2 separate regions of the Homo sapiens genome follow, and region 1 is linked to region 2. A link means that fine-mapping ties the variant in region 2 to the expression of a gene that starts in the linked region. Tissue or cell type: stomach. Region 2 holds a variant in brackets; the other region holds the start of a gene. All regions are shown on one strand. Distances are from middle to middle.

Evidence for each region. PIP is the estimated chance that this variant, and not a neighbour inherited with it, causes the effect. A credible set is the group of variants that fine-mapping cannot tell apart.
Region 1: it holds the start of DYNLT5, and the variant in region 2 is the best candidate, but not a certain one, in a credible set for the expression of DYNLT5 in stomach (GTEx, PIP 0.57).

Annotation. Positions count from the first base shown.
Region 1 is chr1:66,746,726-66,757,607 of GRCh38, forward strand. It overlaps DYNLT5 (dynein light chain Tctex-type family member 5), which reads left to right and starts at 5,734. Exons shown (of 5, transcript NM_152665.3): 1 at 5,734-5,859; 2 at 7,931-8,052. The coding sequence starts at 7,934. It overlaps SGIP1 (SH3GL interacting endocytic adaptor 1), which reads left to right. Exons shown (of 25, transcript NM_032291.4): 25 at 1-4,414.
Region 2 is chr1:66,768,610-66,779,491 of GRCh38, forward strand. DYNLT5 (dynein light chain Tctex-type family member 5) reads left to right here. Exons shown (of 5, transcript NM_152665.3): 3 at 1,778-1,869; 4 at 7,670-7,794; 5 at 8,642-10,438. The coding sequence ends at 8,845. Among named protein-coding and RNA genes, the nearest start is that of DYNLT5, 22 kb to the left of the region's middle. The variant G/A (reference allele first, on the strand shown) is at 5,485.

The sequences.
Region 1 (10,882 bases), 22 kb before region 2:
TTCTGACTGCAAAGGAAACGCCTTAATTGCTTTGTCCACCCTGAACAAAACAATCTGTTTTATGTCACTATACGTACTCCATTTGAATGCCAAGGTAGAAGGCACCATGAAAAACCATTACCAAAATAAGGATAATTCCAATAACAAAACTGTCAAAAAAGAATCACTGCTTCTCAAAATATGATTGGTATCATCACTTATTAATGTTTTGTATCATCACTTATTAATGATTTTGGCTTGGTCACCACTATGCCTGGAAGATAGTAGGCACTGATAAACATTGTTAAACACCGTAACAACACAAAATGATCTACCACATATCAATGTCTTCCATCTCTGAAATTCCATGATTCTACTTTACTCAGATATACCACCTTTTGTGGCATTATAAGGAAACATGTATAATCAAGTTCATACAAGCTATACACAGTAGGCATCGATAAATTTGTATTGACAGCATAAACTTCTAGGGATGAGATTTGGGAATATACATTTTGATAAGTGCTCCAAATTTGAGAATCATTGCTCTAGTAGATCTCTAAGGTCCTTCTTAGTTCTGACATTATATCAGATTTTAAGCATTAAATTCTAAGATGAAAACCATTTTTCTAGTCAGTTTATTTTTCATTCAGTCCACTTAATTTCCTCCAATCTTAAAAAATTTTTTTCCCTAGGAAAATCCCTATCTTTTTCTTAAAGTTACTCTGTTATACTATCTCAGTCTCAAAGTAGCCTGAAATGCATTTTCTCATTTTCATATTTCTGTCCTTTTCTTCAATGTCTTAAAAGACTTGAAGTAGAAGGGAAGTTGCAAGCTGTTATTTATTCAAATACAAAATCCTAATCAATGTTTCCTTCTTTGCAAGGGACATTCAGATCTCTAACTTGTGAGTTGAACCTATTTATTTTGTAAGCTTTTGACTTTACAAACATGTGGTAGCCTCATTCTAAAAGAGTTGCACGAATATTTTTTCTCAAAATAACCACAGGCTGTAAATTAAATTGAACAATACAGTAGAATATGCAGATACATACTAAACAGATGAGTGTGTGTGTATGTGTCTGTGTTTAAGCTTTTCCTTTTCCAAAAGATTATACATTTGAGCAAAATCCCATTCAGTCTAAATGTACTCATTTTGCCACATGGTTTTCTGATCAGCAATTTTTTTAAAAAATGGAAGTGTTACATTATATTTAATAATATCAAAACAAGAGTGATCTCTAAATATAGCTTTGAAAGTTAATATAATATGATGTGTCCATGCAATGAGTCAAATTAGATTGTTGATATAAATGAACAAATCAATCCAAGTTACATTGATTAAAGGGACTATTTGGATGACCAGCCTCACCATCTTTTACTGTGTGCACTTTCCTCTTAAGGTTTTATTGTATTTTCCCTGCTCCTTTAGGCTTTTTTTTCATGTGGAAAACAGTATCTAAATGCCATTCTCTCACTTATGAATTAAATATGGCTACCATTAATGTTCCTTTTTGTCAGTGGAGTGTATGGAAGGAAAATGAGATAGGAGTACATTGCTTAAGTCTCTAAATATTAAAAACAACAACAAAACACTTGCCTTTCTCTTGTGTCATTGCTTCAATGTTCTGTCATCTTCTGCAAGCTAGAGTTGCACTGCTGACATCTAATTAAGATCTAAATATATTTCATGAAGGAATGTCAAATGTAAAGTCTGTTGAGTTGACCATGGTGAACCTCTTGATTGGCCCTCACATTTAATATCTGATTTCTCTCCTAAATGGGTATGTCTATGAGGAAAAGACACCTATTTGTTGGCATTGACCATGGGTATAATAATTTATTCTCTAGGTTTAACTTCTAAAATTATTTTTCCTTTGATTTCTAACTGCCTCCTTCTATCCCTAGAGTAATACCTTGCCTACCTTAAATACATCTTTATCCTTGTAAAAAATGTTTTGGCAAAAAACAAATATATTTTTAAATGTCCCGTAATGTTTTAAAGAAAAGAAGTAAAGTGTATTTGGGCTATGCTCACCAATATTCCAGTATTTTACAAATTGTGTTCTGGAAGATGTTCATTGTGGTCTGAGAACAAATGGTCCTATACTATAATTCTCTCTCCTTGGACATTGACAATAAATGTTAGTGTTTTAATGAAGCTTAAGAAAGTTATTGAATCAGGTAAAAAAAATTTTTTCTAAGCACACCTTGAGAAACCTTTGGAAAAGTTTTCTTTTAACACTAGTTTATATATCCTTCAATAATTGTAAATAAAATAACCAGGAATGCTTTGAAAAAAATGCTTCTGGAATTTTGTTTTAATTTTAAGAGAATTCCTGTCATTTCAAATGAATTGTTATCTATTTTAAATTTCATTAGTATCTCTTAGTGAATTTAACTTTATCATCTAAAATATTCAAAACAAAACAATAAAATTATTTTAATTTTTGTATTATTTTTAAGGCTTGCACCTATGACCAGCATATCAGACCCCTATCTGTTGAAGATGTTTCCAATTCTTTGCCGTGTGGAATTAATGCCAGTGAATAATCTCCAGTAACGTTTTACTAAACAGCTTTAGGAAACTGAATCATGATAGATCAATGTTGACAGTATTTTTACATCAGCTTGTCAGAAATTATATTAAAAACACTTTGGGGAAAGCTAAGAGCAGTGCACTGTTTAGCACAGATTTTGTGAGATTCTATACTCTTTTAATGAGCATTTCATAGGGTTTTTTTTTTGCTGTTTTTTTTTCTTTTTTTGCTTTGCTTTACTTTGCCAATCAGTTACTTTTATACCAAATTAACGAAGTTTCTTTAAAAACTTCCTGGTTAAATTGTCTGTTATCATATAGAAAAGAATCAAACTGAATCACTTTACATTTCTCTAAAGATAGTTCAGTTTTTAATCCATCCAGAGTTTGTGAATCAGCCTGATAGATCATAAGCCATTTATAATTTTTAAACGTTCCATTGAATGAGTATATCATACAAATGTTAATTCCATCTCGCTCATTCAGTTTTACATTACTTTTATGAATTTTTTTTCTCGCAAAGTAAATGCTTGATGTTATTCATTCACCATCACTCTAAGGTATTTTAAATCATACAACAAGTAACTATCACAAGAACCACTGTCCCAAGATCCAAAGTCAGATTTTTTTCCCTTTTCAAGTTGCTAGAATGATAATTCATATAGCTGTGTTGATTTTTCAGGTCAGAATTTAGTTCTTGCTTTGTTAAATGGACATACATGAAAGAGATTGGCTCCTATCTAATTCATATTCTCTCTCTCTCTCTCTCTCTTTCTCTGTGTGTGTGTGGGGGTGTGTGTGTGTGTGTGTGTGTGTGTGTGTGTCTCTTTCCTCTCTGTCTAAGGGGAATTGGAAAATTGCTGCTGAATAATTTTTCTTGAAAAAGCCAAGTGTTGATATGATGATATATTAATCTTATCTATGAACAGAGCTTCACCACAGGCCAAGCAGTAATGTATACAGCTGGCTTTTTAAGCTGTTTGAACACTATTGTTTTCGATTAAAAAGAGTTTTTGTTTGTTTTTCACTTGTATAGTAAAAGATCATATGAATTAAATACTCGGATATTAATTTTCATTCTTACTAAGTGGCCATGTAAGGCATTGATTTTTTTTAAACTTGAACAATGCAAGAATCTAGGAATCTCAGAAAGATTTTGCTGTGTTTCTATAGGTAATGAAATCCTGTCAATTAAGGAAAATGCTGTGTGTAATTTGATTTGGTGGTAGCCTTTATTTAGAGCTCTCTTTGATCTATGTAGCAAAAATACACTAAATTTCTTTTTAATCTTGTACTAAGTACATAATTTCACAAAAATACCTTGGGCATAAAATACTTACAAAACTGTGAATTAAAATACTCAAGATACTTTCAAAATTTAGTCAAAATGTTGATTCCCAGCCTTTTTCCTACACGTCTATTTCAAAAGAGTATACTTTTTTCTGACAGCCATTACTGCTTAGTCTGTAATGAAAGCTTTACTGCTTCTATGCTGTGCTCAAGAGAAAACCAACAACGGAAGCGAAGACTTACTTGCTCCTTCACAGAATTGCAGCAAAGCTCTCTGCTGGGCAATGGTGACAGGAAAGTGTGTAATTGACTTGTTGAAGATAATCATGAGACCATCTTAACATTACTTGCCTTATAAGTTAGAAATAGTATGGATATCACTCTTTGTAAATAATAATTTTTGTAAATGTTTTTTGTTCATAATTTTCCCAATCACCTATTTCACAAAATCCTGAATATGCAATTATTTATTATGACACGTTACTGCAACTAGGGCTCCCATTCCAGAACAAAGTTTAATTCTATATGTAAGTTGTTACTGAAATGTGATTTCTTTTTCTGGAAAATAAATGAAAAATATGAAAATAAATTGAATTGTGAATATCTTTTGCTGTCAGCCTCTTAAAATTTTACCCGCATTTCTGGAAAACTTCATTCCATGTTTAGGGTAGGGATGGTGGGCCAAAGGTCTGTCAAAGGTCAAGGGTTAAGAGTTAGACAAATTTCAGCTCTGTGATTTAAATATCGACTTGAGCATGTTACTCAACGATTCTACATTTCCTTATCTTAAAAAAAAATAGAGTAATGTCCCCTATGTCATAGTCACTGAACAAATTCAATGAGATAATGTTTATTCATCACCTAGCAGTTCCTATCTAGTCCATAGTAGATATTCAATCAACAATCCTTTCCTGTTCTTATCTTTCTGTGAGTAGAGATTGGGATGGGCAAAAATATCTATTTCTCTTCTTCCAACACTATCCTAACACTGTGCTCCACCGGAATCCCAATGTATTACTGTCAGCTAATGCTAATTCCAGCAGGACACTCATCAAGAGCCATGCCCTTGGCTAGATGCTTGGAGGCATCTTGTTTCTGCTTCCAATGATTGCCCACTACAGGAGGGTCCCTATAGTGTTTATTTTGTTTGCTTTTGGTTTGGGGAGGCCCAAACCAGGCTTAGGCTGGGGATAGTCGCTGAAGAAGAGGAAAAGCCCATTCATACCAGCAGGTAGGTCCTCAACCCCAAACAGCCTCATTTCAAAGCTTCTTAGACATTAACAGGCTCAGAAGAGTCTTGTTAAGGAAAGCGAAGGAACCCAGCCCGGTTTGTAACACATTGGAGTTAAGACCATGAGTTTCAGGGGCCTTGGGCATATTATTTAACATTTTAGAATCTCAATTTTCCAAATCCTTTAAAGGGAAAACATTCCTTTCTTGACAGAGTTATTGGGACGACTAAATCCCAATGTTTGTCGGTATCTGGGGTATCTGGCCAATGTAAGTGCTCATTTACCTCCACATTCCACCGCCTGTGCCTTGGAGGGGGAACGTGCGAAGCAGCGTTAGGAGCCGGGAAAAGGGCAGGGCTACTTTACTTTGTCTTTGCGCTTCGGATTTCCTGTGCTAGGAAACCGCAGCACTTCCCACTCCTGCCCCTGATGTCTGCGGGAAAAGGAACTTGATGAGGGGCCCTAGGGGTGCAAATGTCTTTAGTCCCAAATGTCTTCCTCGCTACACAATGAACCAGTTCCCCTCCAGCTCGCCGCCAACCCAGGACGCAGCCCGGCTCAGAGTGACCCCCAGTGGGCAGTGAAGATGAGATCCTCTACATCCTTAGGGCAGCTCAGAGGGCCACTCAGCGGCCAAGTCCGGCCGGGGAGGGCCGAGGGCTCTGTTTGAGGTCACCCTGGAGACCGGCCTCAGAGTCCAGGGAGAGTGCGCGGGCGGCCGCCGGCTGAATGAAGCCTGGGACGCGGGAGCCGCGCCGCGCGCAGTGTCTGCAGTGCCGGAGGTCTGGGAGGCTCCGGGCGAAGCCTCCCTGCTGCAGGTAGGGTCGCCTCTCTCTGCAGCGCGTCTGGACCCCAAAGGAAGGATAGGGGGCAAGGGATCGGCCCTTTGTTGAGAAATGGCCCTACTTGGCCCCGATCTCTCCGCCACCTTATTCCTCCTCTCCCCAACACATAAGAAAAAATGATCCCAAATTTGGGAACTGAAAGTCGGTCCCAACGGTTCGTCCCCTGCCCCATTGCATGGCTGGGGGCTGGGCTTCAAGAGTGATGGCCAACGCAGAGCCGGCCAGCAAGGTCATCCCCTGACCCGGGGCGGTCTTCCTGTGGCTGGCCGCACCCATGAGGACCTCCAGGTCCCAACTCTGGCCTTTCTTGGGGAGGGGGCGGCCTGCAGGGCAGCTTTGGAAACAGCTGAGGCCGAGATGGGTCTATGTGGCTTTGCAGCAAAACCTGAATGACCCACCTAATCAGGCTGTGTGTCTTTCCACACTCATAAACACACTCACCTTCGTACACACGAACACAGACACACTTATACACACAGGCACCTGCACACACAGAGATGCACACTCACAGGTACACACTCAAGGACGCTCACACTCACGTGCACACACACACCACGCTGCCTGCCTCACCCACACACAGCACCTCTGCTCTGACATTGATGCCACTGGGTTTTAGGGTATGTTCTTGTGTGCCCTACCTACTCAACTGCCAGCTCCTTGAAGGCATGGATTCTCTTCTATTTTTATGCTTTGGTGTCTAGCACAGTATTTCCTTATCGGGGCTCTCACATTTATAGATTATGAAATAATTTAAATGAATACTTAAATTTGTAGGTAGACAATGAGGGCATTATTAGAGTTATAGTCCAAGTTCTGGGAAGTCCATTGCTACTACCAGCTTTTTAACAAGTATTAGTAGGAAGGAGGGAGTTTTCCAATAAATTATTTATTTAAAAGTTAAGTCCTATTTGCTCTTTACAAACTATGTAAATGTTGCTCGAGAAAACAAAACAAACAACAAAAAATCTTTGGGAAAGCAAGGTTAATTTTAATTTTTATTTATTTATTTATTTTCTAGCTCCCTACCCCTAATTTTATTTTTTAAAGTCATGGTGGGTCAGGCACAGTGGTTGATGCCTGTAATTCCAGCACTTTGGGAGGCCAAGGCAGGAGGATCACTTAAGGCCAGGAGATTAAGGCCAGCCTGGGCAACACAGAAAGATCTTGTCTCTACAAAAATGTTTAAAAATTAGCTAGGCATGGTGGTGCAGGCCTGTAGTCCTAGCTACTAGGGAGGCTGAGGTGGGTGGACCGCTTGAGCCCAGGAGTTTGAAGTTACGGTGAGCTATGATCATGCCACTGCACTCCAGCCTGGGTAACAAGAGCTAGATCCTGTCTCTAAAATAATAAAATAGGCCAGGTAGAGTGGCTCATGCCTGTAATCCCAGCACTTTGGGAGGCTGAAGCAGGATTGCTTGATCCCAGGAGTTCAAGACCAGCCTGGGCAACATAGACCCTATCTCTACAAAAAATTAAAAATTAGCCCAGCTTGATGGCATACACCTGCAGTCCCAGCTACTCAGGTGGCTGAGTTGGGAGGAACGCTTGAGCCCAGGTGTTTGGGGCAGTAGTGAGCCATGATCATGCCACTGCACTCCAACCTGGGTGACAGAACAAGACCCTGTCTCAAAAATAAAATATAACAGTGACAGCAAATATTAATTAGCAAAGTTGTATTATGGTTACATTTGGGGGGCAATACAAATATTGGTTTCTGATGTAGGATAGCATCTTTCTGCTATACATGCATATCTTTTGTCAATGACCTCCGTCTTCATCAGCTAAGCATTTTTGCTATAGCTTAATATCTGCTTATGTAAATAATTATACTATTGCATAAATAAGCATTTTCAGAGTTATCATAGTTCCAGTTTCACTGATCAGAATAACAACAAATTCTATATATTGCTCTTGAGGAAACCCCACTTTCCTGTTCAAAAATGGTAGGAAAACTATCTGTGTACTTTGAGATTAGTCCCTGTTATACTAACTAAAATGTTTCCGGATCTTTCTTTTGCTATTTTACAAAAGTCTTCTTCCATAGGTTATGATGATGTCAGACAATGCTAAAGGCAGAGCAGCTCATTCATGGAAGAAAAGAGGGAGTATTTCTTCTCTAAGTAATCATGAATTTTGGCGAAAGGAAATTCATGGGCGCATCAAAGAGTGAGTAACTGTCTAAAATTGTAAATTCATTTATTGAATAAATAGGTTCGTAATGTTTATTAGGAGAAAAAAACACTTCCTCGGGGACATAAAAAGAGATAAAATGGGCAAGTACAAGGTGCAGGTCATCTTTAGGGGCCATATTTAAAAAGAAAGAGAAAGAGAGAAAGCTTAAGTGATAAGTTAATCCTAGCAGCATTTTTGCTATTTCAAAAATCATCCCAAAAAACCCTCTGCTCAAAAGAAACACCACATGCAATGTAAACCAGACACGCTTATATGTCTTTTGAGTTCTTCTCCTCAATATTTTATAACATAGGTTTTGCATTTTTGTAATCAATACATACATATACAATGTACTTAACATTATTGTATATAATTTTGTCATGTATTTTCATAGTTTTTTCCATATCCTCTTAAATGACTGCATAATATTTTGTCAATTTATGATTCTGGGTTCCTTAACCATTCTCTAATTATTGGACACTTTAAGTTTGTTTCCATTTTTTTTCTTTTTTACTATATGTCTGTGCTTGGTCATTTCCCAGAAGAATAATTAGTAGGTCAAAGGGCAATAAGTAGATTTTTTGGTTCTTGCTACATGTTGCATCTTCTCTCCTAAAGATATACATCAATTTTTAATATTTTCATGGCATTTCCTTTTGACTGCTGTTGGGAAGAAAACAAAACAAATTATCGACGTAGCAGTCAATTAATAATAGACTTTCGTTCTTAGTTTCTATAGCTTTGGAGGATGTTGTATATTGAGTATATATTGGGAAGCAGGAGCTAGGGTGTCCTGCAGAACAGAGAGTAGAAGAACTGGAATAATTAGAATTCTGAAACCAAAATCTTTCTATTCTCAGAGTGTATTAATGCCTACTTGCAACTCCACATTCCAGCCCTGGAAGTCTGTGGATTACACATACAATGCCTTTTACAGGTGGGAAACTGACTATAAAGGAGTAGCAATCCCAGCACATGTCAGAAGTAAAGGTGGGAGAATGATTAATCTTTGTAATTTTTGCTTCTAAACTTTTCTGGCTGCTATTTCCAATAGTTAAGTGCAAGGGTTATTTTTTAAATTATTTAAAACTGATTGTTGGCTTAAATTCAACTTACGTTTTCCAAGAAACTATTTAAGTAATAGTCTGACATAAATTACGTACCCATGATATTTTTTTAAATACTGTCTCCAAAGATTAAATTGTAATTCCTATTTGCATGACTTTTACTTATCTTTTCCCCTTCAAAACAAATTTGTCATATAGAATCAGAGTGTGGCTACATTTGAAGAATTAGAGATCACTCTTTTTAACCTATTATTGATGAATATAAATACATATTAAAAATAAGAATACAAAAATCATATTTATCAACACATTAGGATAGATTTTTCACTGACAACTACATTTAAATGATAACTATTTTGGTTTTGGACTCCCAAACAAAACATTTAGAATGGAACCTCTATTTGTACTTTTTTTCTTAAATAGCAAATGATCAGCTTCCAAGTCCCCTTGCAATGCAGACTATTTAGGAGGCTCCCCCACCCCATGCTAACTTGTATTAATACTTGCTTTCCATTGGCTTCCTCACTGTCTGGAATTAGACAGTACAAGTTATTCTCCTTCATGAATGAGGCTTCAACTAGTAGAAAAATTCTGAAAGCTTAGTGACTATCAAATACAGGCATTGTTTTGAAATTGCAGTGTTTTATGGAAAAACATATAACTTTCATTTGAAAATTACTTTAAAACAATTTTGAAAATATAAATTTCAATAATGTAAAACATTCTGAAGTTTATTAAGGACTGAATACATTATCTCACTGAATCTCCCCCGCATTAATCCTACTAGGTAGGCATCATTTCTACCACTTTACTATGAAATAACTAAAGTTTACAGGTCAAGTAATTTGACTTAATGATTAGGATACAGTCCCAAATCCTGACTATGAGATACAAAGTCCACAGACCCCTATCTACTTCCATAGCACCATCTTCCCCACCATCTTGCGGGCATCATCCCCTCCAGCTATACTCAGTTATTCCTCAGTGCTCTATCTGGCCCCCAGCCATTGCCCCATGTTGCTTCCCCATGGGGTACCCCGACTCCTTGCCTGCAATGCTCTTCTTACACTATTCCCCTGGCTTTCTTCACTTCTTCCATCAGAATTTCGCTCCATCTCCACCTTTTTGGGAAGTGCTCTCTAATTACTCATCTATGACCACCTTTACCTCCAGACTGCATTGGATGATCTGCCTTTCTTCTCCTACTGCTTTTGCCTTCGATATGCACTATATTTGGTGATTTGCTTGTCTATCTCTTTCAACAGACTATGGACTTATTTGTCTTTTTAGCGGTAACCACACTTATAAGGAGGACATGAAGAGTAAAGGTAGACCTCCTTGAAAAGCTGCTTCTTATATGTGGTATAAGATCAGCACAGATTTAGCCCTACAGTCTTGGTTTCCATGTCTACAGTCTTCCACAGTTGTAACTAATGCTTAACAATGATCCCCAGACAGAATAAATATCTGAAATGCCTTCTGAATTACAAAAAGAAGATTAAATTTATATTAAATATTATTGTGAACTGTTTTCAAGATTGGGTCTGTTTTTAAGTTATCTTTTCAATTTAATGTAATTTTTATGTTTTATTAAAGAAAAAACAGAAACATCTTAAGCTGGATCTTATTATCCTAACTGTTAGTGTGTTGGCATATTTCTGTTAGACCTGGACATACATATATCAGACCCATGCTGTCTGAGTCCAGACAGTACACTACACAGTGGTCATCATACTCCATCTGTAATTTCAAATTAT
Region 2 (10,882 bases):
GTTTATAAAAATCCTTATTTGCTTTTTTGTCTTGGAATTTTCACTCCAGCTAATTTGAGTTTTGTACCACCTCTTCTTCTCCATGAATTTTTAATATGGTGTTCAGTAGAAAAGAAATTGAGTTTTTATGAATACCTTCTGTATTATGCAAGTAAGTTTTAATTGCAGTGATTAATTATTTCATTGTCCCTATTTTCATTCTGTCTGTTATAATCATACTTGGGACTTTGTCACTAAGAGGTAAACAGGACATTTGAAATCTGTCTGCCTTTTATACATGTACATTAAGCCCTTTGCCTCATTCCCTTTATCTCTGAAATGGGTAGAATAATGAATCTTTTACTTACCTCAAAGGATATTGTGAAAGTAAAATGAGATAATTTATGGGAAATGTTTTACAAAGTTAAAAGTAGCATATATAGTAATGGAGCAGACTGACTTATCTTAGAATCAAGGGGTTTATGTAACATTGGGTTTTTTAAGCAGCAGTAATCATCTTTGGTATTGCCCACAACACCTGCAGCCAGTGTGGCCAAACAGGCTGGTTGCTACTTCAAAGGGCAGCAGTAAATTGAGGAAGGCAGGTGTTATAAGAATAAAGATTAAGTCACTCATCCAGAAATCCACCATGAAAAAAGCAGCCAGAATTTCTTCCATCATTTTCTTGGGCTGAGTGGGTAAACCCTAATTTATCATGTAAGTTGTATTGCATTAAAGGATTTTTAAAAATAGATTACCCGTGATTTTCTTAAAATATCGATTTGCAAGAAGTTCATTAATTCCAAACAGCGTAGAACTAAGTATTTTAAATTCCTTGCAAGAAAAAAGATCCCCAAAGATTAAGAGCAAATATCTATTTTTTATTTAATTAAAGCAAAAACATAGCCTGCTTAGAAAAGTGGTCACTCTGAACACACACACACACAAACACACACCCACACACACACACATGCTATTATATCCTCCCCTTTGAAATGACATCTGTCTTAAAGTTCATTTTCACAGGTGGAGAAAATTGAGGGTGCAGCATTCTGAGACTGTCATTAGTTACAGCTGAATTTCCTCTGAACTAAGTTGAATTAAGTAGTGCTGGAGAGACAGTGGGGCCTCCTCTTTGCTTGGGTCTCCTGTTTAGCACCAGGATAAGCTCATATTGCCTTGATAACGAAACCAAAACCCTTTTTCGATGTTGAAAAGGCCGATTGATGCTTATTAATGTATTATAGTTTTGGTGAATTGCGGTTTCCTCTACCACGTAGATGAGTTTCTCATTTTTCTTTTTCATACTAAAGGGATTTTGTGAACTACATATAATAGTGAACTCTTTATAATACTCCATGTGTATATAGAGTTGTCTTCCAACATTTTAAGCTTCCTCATATGTCCCCCAGCCCTGTTTGTGAGCTTTATCTACTTTGAGGAGAGGCTTTATATCAGTGGTGGAGATGCGATTGGCAATGGATTTTGAAGTATGTACTGTTACCCCATACACATACATCAACCCAGGATCGCTTTCTGGATAATTTGATGACCTGGGTAACTGCCCTGGGCTTCAGCCATCACATTGAGACCTGCTCCAAATAATTCCTCTGCATCTTAATATTTCCATCTCTAAAATGTTTTGGACTTTCAATATGCCACTAGGATATTTACATAAGACTTACTTGAAATTTTCTGAGAAAACTTCATCTTTGTAACATTTTAGCTTAAAGCAATATTGTATTTTGTTATTATTGTTATAATAATGACTAAAATTTGTTTTCTCCCTTGTTTTTAGTTCTATGAGTACTGTGTCTTATATGGAAGAACCCAGTCAGCGTGATGATATCTCTCGCCTTACAGTTCAGATGGAAAACACCTATCAGTTGGGTGTGTTCTTTTATCTCTCACTCCTATTTTAAACTTCTAAATTGGTGACTGATTCTCTTAAAAATGATATTTGATAACCTGGCATTGTCTTCAATTCTAGCACAATATAAGGGACTTTAATGAATTGAGTGATTTGATGTTGCTTTAGTTTCTTCCTCAGCAAAAAGGTAACAACACTTGCTGTCTTACTTTTCTTTACTAATGTTTCCCAAATGCCAAACAATTCACTGGGTGGCACTGATGCATACAGTATACTACTGACTTAACAAATTCACTGAGTATTTCTGGGTACATAGATATGACTTAAATGAAAGAGATAAGTATTGATATTTTATCCAACAAAACCAATCAGTGTTGTTAGGTGAAGGAAAAAAAAAAACTCAAAGCAAAGGCAAATGACTCATAGTCCCCTGTTGACAGAGACGTTTATCCATTACCACTGAGGTTTTGAGTCTTTGAAAACAAAGATCTTTGCACCTGCCGCTATACTCCCAGGTGGAGTCCGTGGCAAATATCTTTTCCCATCCATGTTTCCTCATAGACCCACTTGTTTTCTCTAAAAGCGTACCTGCCCACTATTACCTGAATTCATACATAATTACTGCTATATGGAAATTCCACAGAGATTTACCAAGGGGCAAAGAAAGACTCTATGGGCCAAGGTGATTCCATCTGTGGCCAGTTAACCCCAAGAAAATTATAGACCATCAGCCTGTCCCCTCTGGCCTTGTAGCCAGTTTTCTACAGGAGTCCCCAAGACTACATGGATTACACGGCTCCATAATTAGCCAATCTACTGGTATTTTCACAGTGCCTGTGGTGGACAGCTAATATTCCTGCCATCCAATATACTTTTATACTTCTCTGGTAACCTCACTAAATTTCCTTTGAAATTCCACCAACATCACCACTTTTGATCCTAGCATTCTAATGAAGCTGGCACTGGCTTTATAGATAGAGCAGTGACTGATTCTAGGATGGCATATAACCATGGTGAATCCAATCAAAGACTTTGAGATTAAATTCAGAAAATGTTGTTTGGCCTGTTGCAGAAGAACATAAAGCCCTGAAACTTGAAGGAATGTAGGGGCTCTGGCAGGATCTGCCACCTTGCCCTGACTTGAAACTGAGAGAAAACAACAGAATCCTGGTGTCATCATTTGAGTCCTAAATCCAATTGGCTACCCTTTAACTTTTCAGTTAGGCAAGCTAAGTTTGGGTCAGGTTTTCCCTCACTTGCAACTAAAAGTTCTTAGCCATGGGGTGTCTATGACTTTGAACTGTGCATGCTGGAAGGGTTTGAATCAGATTTGAACAAGACAGGGCCAGTGAAATGTGAATCTCTGTGTTTCTACATAAGGATATTTTTTGCAACTTGTTTTCTCAAATAAAGCATCTTATCAGTTTTAGAAGTACTGAGTATGAACCACATTAGAAAAGTAATTTTAGAAAAAGCTTAGTATAGATGAAATATACCTGTATTTTCCTACAATAGTCTATGTGAATTTTTTAATAATTAAAATATTTTATGCTTGACAATTCCCTTTTTATAGCATTCAACCAGCCATTTTATTAATACTTAATCAAAACTGTGTTTCCACTTCTACTTGTTTCTGGGTTTATTTCACATATGAAAGGTATTTTGTGAGTGTATTAGTCCGTTTTTGCATTGCTATAAAGAAATACCTGAGACTGTAATTTATAAAGAAAACAGGTTTATTTGGCTCATGGTTCTAGAGACTATACAGGAAACGTGGTGCCAACATCTGCTTCTGGTAAGACCTCAGTAAGCTTTTAGGCATGGCAGAAGGGAAGGAGAGTTGGCATGTCACATGGCAAGAGAGGGAACAAGAGAGGTGCCAGGCTGTTTTAAACACCCAGCTCTCATGTGAACTAATAGAGGAAGAACTATAGAGCAAGAACTCAGTAATTACCGCTGGGACAGCACCAAGCCATTCATGAGGGATCCACCTTCCTGGCCCCAACACCTCCCACCAGGCCCCACCTCCAACACTGGGGATCACATTTCAATATGAGATTTGAAGGGGACAAATATCCAAACTATATCAGTGGGACTTTGGTAAATAGTTTATCATATCTTTACAATGTAATACTGGCCAGAAAAGTAGAGGGAAATATCAGCCAATCACCAGCACTATTATGTTTAATTAATTTTTCATTCCATTCAATAATGTTTGCCTCATCTAAACACATCTTAAATGAGAGCATTTACATAAATAATTACAGCTACAAAAAATGAGATGAAACATGAGTATCATTCATGAGAGGAGAAAAGGGAATAGAAAAGGAAAGTGTGTTTCTTTTAATAAAATACCATTTATATATTTCTCATTAATTACTAAAACAAATATAAAAGAAAATGCAGGCTGTGGCATCTGTCGTATCTGAATTTGAATACTAATTTTGCTAATTCCTTGAGCAAGGTATTTAGCATCATTGAATCTCAGTGTCTTCACTTGTAAATAGGGATAATAGTCTATACATCACATGGATGCTATGAGACTCAAATGATGTTATATGTTTAAATCTCTCCATTCATCATGTTACTACTCCTGAAAGTGACTGACTCAAGGACCTTACTATAGATCACTAAGAATAAAAGCCTTCCATGATATTCATTGTAACTTCATATTAATTATGGAATAAGTTTTCCACAGGACTTTTTCTGGAACTGAGTATAGTGGCACCTGGTTGTTTGCAAACATGGACTGCGAGCACCGAGCCAAACTAGATTGGCGGCCATCTTTGCTACCACATCAAGACAGCCTGCCTTGAGAATGAAGCCAGCACAGTAGAAAGTAGATCCAAAATATTGAGAGAGAAAGAGAGAGATTATTTGAGTTCAGCTTCCATGAAGTGCTCAGGCCCTGTCTCTATGTCAGGTTTTCTTAGAGCCTGTCAATCTCTCAGCATTGATTTTACACCACCACATGGGGTCCTTCCTAATCCCACAGGCCTCACTGTCTCCAGACTTACGTCCTCTTTCATCTTGCTGCCTTCTCAGCAAGGTAAATCCCCAATTCTTCCTTCAGCATGCAATAACTACAATAACAGCAATAACACTAATAAGATCACATATCTAAGGAGTGTTTTATTGTGTGACAAGCACTGTTCTAAACATATTCAATTTATTGTCTCATTTAATTCTAACAAAAAAAAATGTAGTAATTATTATTATTACCCCAATGTGGGGTAGTGGAGGCCCACATACATTAAGTAAACTTATCTTTATCTACTTTTTAAGGACAAGTTTTGTTTGTTTTTAAAATTTTTTTTGTCTTGATCCTTCAGGTCTTTGCCTTTTGATTTCTAAAACACGTTTTTTCTCCTAAGGAAAAAAAAAATCTCGAGAAAGAAGAAAAGCTTTGCCATTCACATCAGTTTACTCTGAAACTAGTTTTAGGAGCTTATTTCAGAAGTCAGAAACTGAACATTGATGGATGATTCTGGATGTTTAGGGGAAAGGTAACAAAGAAGTAAGAAAAGAATACTTCATTACCATATTTCAAAGTATTTTCAAAACAGGATCTGGTTAATGACTTTTTTTTTAATCTAAGCGAAGTATGGAAAGGACATTGGTAGCACTGTACAACG[G/A]GAACTACTGGAAACAGACTCAAGTGCCACCAGGACCCTCTTTCCAGCACTAACCTATGTGCACTTTCTTCTCTTTTGGTGGCCTGGCCTCCTTACCACCATGAAAAACATGTCCTCCAGCAGGTCCTCAGAGTCACATGGTAACTTTTGCCACCAGAAAGAGGCTGACTCTTTTTTCCTACTTGCAGTTTAAAATAAAAATTCCAAAAAAAGACTCTCATTGTCCTGGCCTAGAGCATTGTCACCCTGGGTTAATCAACCATGCCCTAGGCTTGGGTTCGCAGGAGATGATGGGGAGATCTTTAAGAACCACTTTCTAGATTCAATCTCCACCCCCACCCTTCCACGATTTAAGTGGAATTCAACAATTTCTATATTATCATCAAAATAAAAATAACGATTTATAGAACCTCAAGAGGCTCACCTAACTGAACTGCAGTCAGAGGCTGTAACCTTCTGGTTAAGTTCAGCCAGTGGGAAACCTCAGCTGAGAGGCAGAGGGAGTGAGAAGTGTGAGGTGGAGCTGTTTATTTCCCTGGCTCCTGCCTGTGAGTTCATCACAGCCTGGTTACATTCTTCAACCAAAGGACAGAAACTGCTCCCAAGGGAGCCCTCTCCACATGACCCTTCTGGGATCTATTAAAAGCTCTTCCTCTATTCCCCAATCTTGGGGTGGGAGGGGTGGGCTGACAACCTTACTTTCACTGGCTGAGGGGTGCTGCACTATCCCTTGTGATTTTCTACAGCCCACTCAGAACTTCCTCCTGGAATTATTTTAACTATAGGGTGCCATATGTTTCATTTGACCCTGACAGATACAGTCATCACAAACAAACACTTATTACTAGATATTGACATATATTAAAAGAGAATTGAATAGAATTCTTGATCTCATTCCTTCATCTTTATCAATTCAACAAATAATGACTGGGCTTCTGTATGCCAGGCCCTGGGCACATGTTCATGTCATGCAATGACATTAGTATATGACCAAAGTGATGATATGGCTAATATTCCTGGGATGCAGGAGGAAGAAGATTCATTTGAAGCTTCTCCTCTGAACGTGGATGAAATGTGGTCGAGAATATAAGCTCTAGCATCAGATAAACCTGGGTGTGCACCCCAGCTCTGCCTCTCTGTGTGATTCTGGGCAGGTTACTCAATGTATATAAATCTCTGTTTCCCCACCTGCCAAATGGAGATAACAGTGAGATTCACCTCAGAGATCTATTGGAAGACTATATAAGGTAATATGAAGTGCTTATCGCACTGCCTGACATGTAGCAACGGCTTAATAAAAAGTATTCATTATTATATATGTATACAATATACAGTCATATATCATATATAATGATTATCTATAAAATTTAATTCTATTTAAATTCAGAAATCATACATTAAAAATTTCTTATGCCTTTAGCATTGTATTAGACTCTGAGGAGGATAAAATCCGAGCTTGCTTACCATTTCACTGGAAACGCAGGTATGCTTTAGCCAATATCAAGTGGATTAGGAGCCAGGATGGCAGTGGGGACCCAGTGCATGGAAAGGAGGGACATTTTTACCTGAGAGGAGGTAGAGTGCTACCTGGAGAAGAAGACATTTGAGATGGTCTTGAAACATGAGTGGCTGTTTCTCAGATGAACAAGATGGGGAAAGATATTCCATTTGAAAACTAAAGAGCAAGAGTAAGGACACAGGAGCACCTTTATAGACAGATGGAGCCTGTGAGGCTGGAGCAGTCCACAAGAGGGGCACTGTGGTAGCGGGAGAAGGGGCAGTAGGGAATCACACTTTAGACCTCGCTAAGGGGAATGTCATTTAAGATCTGGTAGATAGATTGGAGCGGGAGATATAAGAGGTAGAGAGCCAGTTATAAAGTTGTTGAGACTTTGAAGTATGTCCACAACAATGGGGCCTGGGAAGGAAGAGACTTTCAAGGTCAAACCCCAGCAGTATTGAACACACTTTTGAGATAGTCACGTAAATGTACGAAAATATTGTCTTCTTGTTCTCTCTCAGAGCACTTGACAGGAAACCTAATTAGAGCCACTTGTTTCTTTCAATAGAGTCCACCCAGAAGATTAAATCCCTCCATGTTTCCATACTCTTTTGATTAGCCTATGGGGTGGGTGGGTGTGATTTGAAATTACTTTTTAGAAATAAATTTTATGTGTATTTTCAGGTCCTCCCAAACATTTTCCTGTGGTCACCGTCAATCATATTTTGAAAGATGTAGTAACCAGCTATCTACAAGTAGAAGAATATGAACCAGAGCTCTGTAGACAGATGACTAAAACCATTTCTGAGGTACGTGTGTGATTTGCCCAAAGTGTTAACAATAGCTAGAATATTTGCTAAAGTACAACGGACCCTCTACTTTTTTGATGAGGGGAATTAATTTGCAGTAACAGTTAAAATGCGTATTTATAATTAGGTCATATTCTACATATATGTGTGTGTGTGGGTGTGTGTGTGTGTGTGTATATACATAAAGCCTTTGTCTAAAACAATCATGAGCATCATTTGCATGCATTATGTAAAAGTGTATAAAACTGCCCCATTTATAAAAGTGTTTATTGTAAAAGATACAACATTTTAATGATTATTTTCTCTTCACTAAGGCAGCTTCTTTGAGTGCCATCAAATACAGACATTGTGGTCTTCAAGCACATTTCTATTTTTACAAACCCCAGGGCTGCACTTCATCAAGGTTTCCTCTACTTTCTTTTTGATAACAAACTCTTTAATAAACATTAATGATTAGTTATATTACAGGAGACTCCAGATGTATGGTTTCTTAATTAGACATGAACAAGACAGTGTAACTCCAATGCCAACATTCTTTGACATGAAGCCATCTTAACATAAATTTTCAAAGAATGTAATTTATTAAATTCTGTGTTCTGGATTATAATTATTTCATGTATCTTAGAAAAGGTTGATTTATTGCTGGTGTTAAAATTTTGTTCCTGAATGTTCTATCTCAAGGGGACCATGCTTGAAGGGAATCATACTTACGGTTCTAAAACAATCACTGAAAGTATCTACAATGCATCATGCTATTAAATTAAATCCCTTATATTTATAACAAAGGTTAATGCTTTTGAGTTTCAATGTAGCTGAATGAAGACCCTCCCTTTTTTTAAATTTCTAGGTTATTAAAGCCCAGGTCAAGGACTTGATGATTCCACGGTATAAACTAATTGTGATTGTTCACATTGGACAACTGAACAGGCAGAGCATACTTATTGGAAGCAGATGCCTCTGGGATCCTAAAAGTGATACCTTTTCATCTTATGTTTTCAGAAATTCTTCTCTCTTCGCTCTTGCAAATGTCTATGCAGTTTACCTTGAGTGATTGAAAATAAGAAATCTAGCTCTTACTTTTGAAAATTCTGAGGCAGGCTGTATGTCTGTACACAAAAGTTTTACTGCCAAAAACTTTGAGAAAGAAACAACACTGATATTTCAAGCAACTGGAAGCTTTTGAATTTTTTCATATTCTAGTAAAGATTTGGGGAGGGGAGGGTAGCCACAGAAAGAATCTTGTTTATCTAAAGCAGGAACTTGATCTTGGTTTTGCTGGATTGCTTTCCATAGACATAGATTCTTATTAAATATTTGTTTTGGTACTAATTATTTTAATTATTCTTTAATTAGAGTGTTACAATTTCCTGCATTGTTTTTTAATAAAAAGAAGCTTTAGAAAAACTATGGCTATATACCCTGACCAATAAATGATAGTAGAATATTCAACATGGTATACACAAATGATAAATAATGTGCCTCAGTGCTGCATATAAAAGAATACTGGTTTTCATTTTGTACTTAATAAATTGAGCAGCATTCATTAAGTGCAATTATTGTTACATGTACCTGACAGTTGAAACTGCTGAGGTAGAATTAATGGCTTCATAACAATTATCGTGGTCCCACGGGCTGCAAGCTAAAACTAGAAGCTCTTGTGGCTTGCCTGCACTTTACACAATTGTGGGAGAACCGAAAGTTGGCTCTTCAGTAATGGAAACTATAAAGTGAATAAAGGCTTTTTGGGACACTGAAGTAGACATTGTGATATTAAATATACATGATGCTTAATACTAAATGTGTCTGTAACACATAAAATCATTTATTGGAAAGAGACATTGCTTTTAAATATCCTAGGCTAACAAACTTTTTCACAAAATATATGGCTGGCACCTTAACAAATAAAGCATGTGTAGTTACCATTTTACTCCTATGAATTTAATACTAAAGTGACCCAGTGAGGTTTTTGAATAGACGGGTGCTAAAATTTACAGGGCTGAAATAGCTTATTATTCTGCTGGTTAATGTATCTTACGCCACGGATCATTTATTTTTATGAAGCTTTCAAGTCTTTGTGTGCAAGTAAAATGATGTTGTGGCGTTGTTCTTGGATGGTAAGTGGACTGCCTAGAGGACATTTGTTAAAGGTCAAAGACAAATTGTACACATATGGAGAAAATTAGCAATGCTGTAGTCTTAAGGAAAAAATGATTTATCATTCATATCAAAAAGAGTTTAGCAAATGGAAAACCAGTTAATGCTTTAATTTTAAAATGTTTTGGTGTCTTACTTTTCCCTAAAAATGACATGTAGTAAAAAATGGATACTTTTAAAATCCCTTCCCTTCTGCTATTTTCTGGCTTTTAAAGTGATTATTCAAAATGAATTTGTCAATTTTCACTTTTTTTTTTCTGTTAGTGCATTAGTGGGAATATGTCTATGTAATAATTTATCACAACCAATATTTGTCAATCTCCATAGAACAGTTTTCAATCTGGATTAGATTACACGTATAACAAGTAAATGAGCTTCATATTTTCATTACACATTGGTGAACATCTCCCTTCGTGGAACAACAGCGGGGGTAATCATATCACTAATTTTGTATGAATAAATGAAAATGAAGAAACTTCTTTAACATATACAAAGTCTATTGTAACAATGACTGTTTGTTTTAGAGTTCTAAATTCTAATCCATGAGATAATTTCTTACTGTCTTCCCCAGGCTGTGTTGAGAATCGAAACTGCAAAACATGACGGCAGTTAAAAAACAAAAAAGAAAGCAGTTTGCCAGCATATTGCTACACACTGTAATTCAGATACTCAGTGATGAATTCTAGCAATTATATAGCAGTATAAGAATACATAGTAAAAACTCACTCCTTGCAACTAACTTGGGAGAAGCTAGTTATCACACAGAACTTTATCATGAGAAATTTTTAATGAAATTATCACACAGAACCTTATCATGAGAAATTTTTAAAACAATGACACTATAAATTTGAAGGAATTGTTTTACTTTGAAATGCCCTGAACTTCCCTGGTATTTTTTTCCTCTCCTAAAGTGCCATCCTTCTTCCCAGACCAG